Regions from separate parts of the Homo sapiens genome. Here region 2 is reported to be linked to region 1. The links are microRNA targets in miRTarBase. Many come from high-throughput screens and were not tested one by one. Region 1 holds a microRNA gene; the other region holds the end of a gene's coding sequence.

What was found. The annotated mature microRNA hsa-miR-4454 reads GGAUCCGAGUCACGGCACCA and lies in region 1 at 1,831-1,850, shown strand. An mRNA with a match to its seed (bases 2 to 7 or 8) in the 3' UTR can be bound and repressed. Matches are read on the target gene's strand: a 7mer-m8 pairs with bases 2 to 8, a 7mer-A1 pairs with bases 2 to 7 and ends in A, and an 8mer does both.
Region 2: the mRNA of TMEM186 is a reported target of hsa-miR-4454. The part of its 3' UTR that is shown has no 7-base or 8-base seed match.

What each region holds. Positions count from the first base shown.
Region 1 is chr4:163,092,343-163,095,456 of GRCh38, reverse strand. MIR4454 (microRNA 4454) reads left to right here and starts at 1,829; the gene lies at 1,829-1,883.
Region 2 is chr16:8,793,234-8,796,317 of GRCh38, reverse strand. It overlaps TMEM186 (transmembrane protein 186), which reads left to right. Exons shown (of 2, transcript NM_015421.4): 2 at 1-1,138. The coding sequence ends at 366. Among named protein-coding and RNA genes, the nearest start is that of TMEM186, 2.9 kb to the left of the region's middle.

The sequences.
Region 1 (3,114 bases):
CAATTTCCAGTGGGGTCCCGCACAGATGGGACACGGCTTAGGAGGAATCCTGGGCTGCGGGCATTCCTTGGCCTGGTGGTCAGATTTCTGGCACTTGTAGCAAGCTCCTGGGGGAGGAGGTTCTGGAGGAACACCTGGCCGCTGTGGTTCAGGCGTTTGGAAGTTCTTGTGTGCTGGAGATGTGGCTGGGGTTTGTCTCACAGTGGAGGCAAGGAATTGCAACTTTTTTCTATTATTGTACACCTTGTAGGCAAGGTTAATTAAATCCTGTTGTGGGGTTTGAGGGCCGGAATTTAATTTTTGGAGTTTTATTTAATGTCGGGAGCAGATTGGGTAATAAAATGTATATTGAGAATAAGATGGCCTTTTGACCTTTTAGGGTCTAGGGCTGTAAAGCGTCTCAGGGTTGCTGCCGAACGAGCCATGAACTGGGCTGGGTTTTTATATTTGATGAAAAAGCCTAAACGCTATCTGATTTGGGATAAAGAAAAAGGAGCATTAACCTTGACTATGCCTTTAGCTCCAGCCACCTTTTTAAGAATAAATTGCTGGGCAGGTAGGGGAGGGCTAGTCACAGAACGAAACTGTAAGCCAGACCAGGTGTGAGGAGGGGAGGCGATAAAAAGATTACAGGGTGGAGGAGTGGAGGCTGAGGAAGAATTGGGACCTAGCTTGGGCTGGCGAGGAGGGGAGAGGTCAGATGGGTCTGTAGAAAAGGAAGATTAGAAAGACTCAGCGACGCTTGGGGTTGGGACTGAGGGGACAGGCGGGAGGGAAAGAAGGAAGATTTGGGAGGAGTTGCACTGGGCACAGAGACTAGGAAGGGACTGATGTGTAAAAGAATGCCTGGACGTCAGGCACCTCAGACCATTTGCCCCTTTTACGACAAGAATTATTTAGATCTTGTAGGATGGAAAAATTGAAAGTGCCATTTTCCAGCTATTTGGAACTACTGTCGAGTTTGTATTGGGGCCAAGCAGTGTTGCAGAAGAAAATAAGGCGTTTAGGTTTTAGGTCAGGTGTAAGTTGAAGAGGTTTTAAATTCTTGAGCACACAGGCTAAGGGAGAACAAGGAGGAATGGAGGGTGGAAGGTTGCCCATAGTGAAGGAAGCAAACCCAGAGAAAAGAGAGCGTAGAGACACAGAGGGAAGGGGTTTGGGGGTTCTTGCCCCCTAGAAAAGCGGGACTTGCCACTAAGGGTGAAGGAGAAGGGGTTGAGGGGTACTTGCCCCTGCCCCAGGAAAGCGGGACTTGCTGCTAAGGGTGAAGGAGAAGGGGTAGAGACAAGGAGAGAAGGGGTTGGGGTACTTGACCCTGCCCCAGGAAAGCAGAGAAGGGGTAGAGACAAGGAGAGAAGGGGTTGAGGTACTTGCCCCTGCCCCAGGAAAGCGGGACTTGCCGCTAAGGGTGAAGGACCAAGGCAGGCCTCCCTGCGTGGTCTGACACCCTTGAAACGTGGGTGTATAATCAGAGAGGCATCCCTGCAATGATTAAACACCAAGGGAAGGCTGCCTTCCCATTCCATCACCCACGCCAGAGTTTTGGGTCCACGGATAAAATGTGTCTCTTTTGTCTCTACCAAAAAATGAAAGGAATTGAAATTAAGAGAAGGGAGAGATTGAAGTGTAGCGCCAAGATTGAAAGGAGAAAGAGGTTGAGGGATAGTGAGGGAAGTTGGAGAAGAGAGTAAAAGGAGGCCGCTTACCAGATTTGAAATTGGTGAGATGTTTCTTGGGCTGGTCGGTCTGAGGACCTGAGGTCGTAGGTGGATCTTTCTCATGGAGCAAAGAGCAGGAGGACGGGGGATTGATCTCCCAAGGGAGGTCCCCGGATCCGAGTCACGGCACCAAATTTCATGCGTGTCCGTGTGAAGAGACCACCAAACAGGCTTTGTGTGAACAATAAAGCTGTTTATTTCACCTGGGTGCAGGTGGGCTGAGTCCGAAAAGAGAGTCAGCAAAGAGTGGTGGATTATTATTAGTTCTTATAGGTTTTGGGATGGATAGGCGATGAAGTTAAGAGCAATGTTTTGCGGGCAGGGGTGGATCTCACAAAGTACATTCTCAAGGGTGGGGAGAATTACAAAGAACCTTCTTAACGGTGGGGGAGATTACAAAGTACATTGATTAGTTAGAGTGGGGCAGGAACAAATCACAATGGTGGAATGTCATCAGTTAAGGCTATTTTTACTTCTTTTGTGGATCTTCAGTTACTTCAGGCCATCTGGATGTATATGTGCAAGTCACAGGGGATGCGATGGCTTGGCTTGGGCTCAGAGGCCTGACAATCAGTATTCCTGACATTTTGATACTGGCATCAATTTTCAAATTTCATGAGCTCTCTATCTATGAGACGTTCTGGTTATTGGAATTTCCCCCCAACCTGGCCCTTTAAAGAGATGATATCCCTTACGATAAGCTCCCTTTAACTGCCTTATCATTTCTGGTTCAAGTTGATGAATCAGAAGCATAAGAAAAAGACTTATATTTTTCTTTATTTACTCTATAAGTATTTATTGAGCACCCATGATCAGGACATTGTTTTAAGTTTTGGAGACATACGAATGACTAAACTCAGAACTATACTCTTAAGGATCTGATAGTTTATCAGGGATGACAGAGAAAAAAATGAATGATTTCCATTCAATGATATAGGTTCCTTCGTATAAATAATTATGGGGCACAGTAGATACTAAAGGAGAGAACAGGGAAAGGGCAACACAGAGGAAGTGACACTTATGCTGTAGCTTAAAGACTAAGTAGGAATCTTCCAGGCTGACAAAAAGAAAAAAATAGCACTCAGAATAGGCTACAGTATCTACTAAAACAGAGAGTAGTGTAAAAGCATGACTATGAAATCACAGCATTATTTTGGTTATATTCAGCTTGATTCTAGGAAAACTCACAATCGTTACATCTTTAGTAAATCTTTTTCAATTAATCTTTAAAAATGGAAACTGGTAGCATATTTATACATTTTTATACATGGGCCTTATACTTTAAGTGTGAAGTTCATCCTTAAATTCACAATGAACTTCAGTTTCAGCCAAATATTTTACCGTTTGTTTTCCTTTCACCCTGTTAAAACAAAGATAAACTGTAGTAAATAAAAAT
Region 2 (3,084 bases), not on the chromosome of region 1:
TACTCCCAGGGCCTCCTCACTCTCAACACCGTGTGCCTCATGAGTGGGATATCGGGCTTTGCCCTGACCATGCTGTGCTGGATGAGCTATTTCTTACGGAGACTGGTTGGTATCCTGTATCTGAATGAGTCTGGCACCATGCTGCGGGTGGCCCATCTGAACTTCTGGGGCTGGCGGCAGGACACATACTGTCCCATGGCAGATGTGATTCCCCTGACAGAAACCAAGGACCGGCCTCAGGAGATGTTTGTGCGTATCCAGCGGTACAGTGGGAAACAGACCTTCTACGTCACCCTGCGCTATGGACGCATCCTGGACAGAGAGCGTTTCACACAGGTGTTTGGGGTACATCAGATGCTCAAGTGAACAACTGGGACCTGGACCTCTGGGTAACCCTGGGTCGCCTGGATTAACAGGAAGGCTGAGGGTGTGGGCAAGGCTGAAGAAAGGGGACTGGGTACTTGGAGACTTTGCCTGGGCCCCTGGGAACATGTGTTTTGTGGTGAATAAATTCACAAGGCAAGAGCTGGTGTACAGGTTTAGGAAAAAGGCTCTAAGCAAGTTCTTACAGCACTTGTTTGTGACATTCAGTCAGATAATGGCCAGAAGTTTTTGTTAAGAGCCAGTTCTTAGAAGAACCTATGCCAAGGTCACCCATAGAGTCCATTGGTGTGAAAGAGAAAGGCAAAGAGGTGTGGCGGGGGAGCGTAAGATTTGGAGTCAGAAGTCTCAGTTCTGTCATTTGTCCTGGAGCAGGTTATTGAGTCTCTTTGAATCTTGGTTTTCACATCTGTAAAATGGAAAGTCCTGCTTGTTTCATGGGATGGGTGTGGGAATAAACAATAAATGTCAAACGTGTGGCAGACTCAACAGCCTACAGCAGATATTATTAAGCATTTGGTCAGAGGTTTTAGCAGGGAGAAAGGCTTCGAGCAGTCAGCAGGGACTTCCAGAGCCCTGTGCTGTGCCCCTCACATATCCAGCGGCAGAAGGGTCTGTCAGGATGTTAACTACACATTGACGAGCAGATGTCGTCCAGGTAGGCACGAAACCCCAGTTGAGATTTGTTCACCACCCAGAGGTCTAGAGGCTCTTGCTTTGGATGGCCCTGCAGTGTAATAAAGCCAAATGCACCGGATGCTGGTACGTTATTTTATAAACTTAAGCCAGTTATATACATTGCCCCACATAATTAATAATATATGTTCATTATACAATTTGTAACACAGTAAAGAGGAAGGAAGGCATGATCTTTATTATTTTGCCACTCGAAAGTCAATAAGAATGTTTTATCGCTGGGGGCGGTGGCTCACACCTGTAATCCCAGCACGTTGGGAGGTCAAGGTGGCGGATCACGAGGTCAGGAGATCGAGGCCATCCTCGCTAACAGGGTGAAACCGTGTCTCCACTAAAAAATACAAAAAAATTAGCTGGGCGTGGTGGCAGGTGCCTGTAGTCCCAGCTACTCGGGAGGCTGAGGCAGGACAATGGTGTGAACCTGGGAGGCGGAGTTTGCAGTGAGCCGAGATCACGCCACTGCACTCCAGCCTGGGCGACAGAGTGAGACTCCGTCTCAAAAAAAAAATATTTTTTTTTATTGTGTAGCCTTCCATTTTTCTTAACCATACCAAGATACACCTAACAAATTTATCCTTTTAATCATTTTTAAGTGTGCAATTCAGGGACATTAAGTATATTAACAATGTTGTACAGGCTGGGCACACTGTCTCATGCCTGTAATCCCAGCACTTTGGGAGGCTGAGGCGTGTGGATCACTTGAAGTCAGGAGTTCAAGACCAGCCTGGCCAACATGGCAAAACCCTGTCTCTACTGAAAATACAAAAATTAGCTGGGCATGGTGGTGGGCACTTGTATTCCCAGCTACTTGAGAAGCTTGAACCCGGGAGGCAGAGGTTGCAGTGAGCCGAGATTGCACCAATGCACTCCAGCCTGGGAGACAGCCAGACTATCTCAAAAACAAACAAAACAAAAAATGTTGTACAACCGTCACCACCATCTATTTCCAGAACATTTTCATTATCCCAAACAGAACTAATATACCCATTGAGCAATAATTTCCTTCTTTTTCCAGCCCTTGGCAACCACTAACCTGCTTTCTGTCCCTCTGGATTCACCTGTTCTGGATATTTCATATAAATGGAATCATACAATATGTGACCCTTTGTATCTGGCTCTTTTTTTTTTTTTTTTTTGAGTTGAAGTCTCGCTCTGTTTCCCAGGCCAGAGAGCAGTGGCGCGATGTCCACTCACTGCAACTTCCGCCTCACCAGCTCAAATGATTCTGCCTCAGCCTCCCAAGTAGCTGGGATTATAGGTGCCTGACGCCAAGCCTGGCTAATTTTTGTATTTTTAGTAGAGATGGGGTTTCACCATGTTGTCCAGGCTGACCTGGAATCTCTGACCTCAAGTGATCACCCACCTCGGCCTCCCACAGTGCTGGGATTATAGGCGTGAGCCAGTGCGGCTGGCCTGTATCTGGCTTCTTTGACTTGGTGTAGTGTTGTCAAGGTGCATCCGTGTTGTAGCATATGTCAGTGCTATTTCTTTTTTATGGTTAAATATATTTACGGGTGCAGTGTGTATTCTCTGTGTGTGCCACATTTTGTTTGTCCATCTGTTGATGGACATTTGAGTTGTCGTCACCTTTTGACTACTGATGAATGAACATTTGGCTATTGCTGTGAACACTGGTATACGAGTATCTGTTTGAGTCCCTGCTTTCAGTTGTTTTGGGTACGTACTGAGAAGTGGATTAACTGGATCCTGTGGTAATTCTGTTTATTTTTGAGGACCTGCCACTTTTCCACAGCAGCTGTACCATTTTACATTCTCACCAGCAACAGACAAGGGTTCCTGTTTCTCTACATTCTTGTCAACAGTGGTTACTTTTCCTTTTTTTTAAATTTGAGATGGAGTCTTACTCTGTCACCCAGACTGGGTTGCAGTGGTGTGATCTTGGCTCACTGCAGACTCCGCCTCTCAGGTTCAAGCGATTCTCCTGCCTCAGCCTCCTGAGTAGCTGGGATTACAGGCACCCACCACCATGCCCAGCTAATTTTTCTG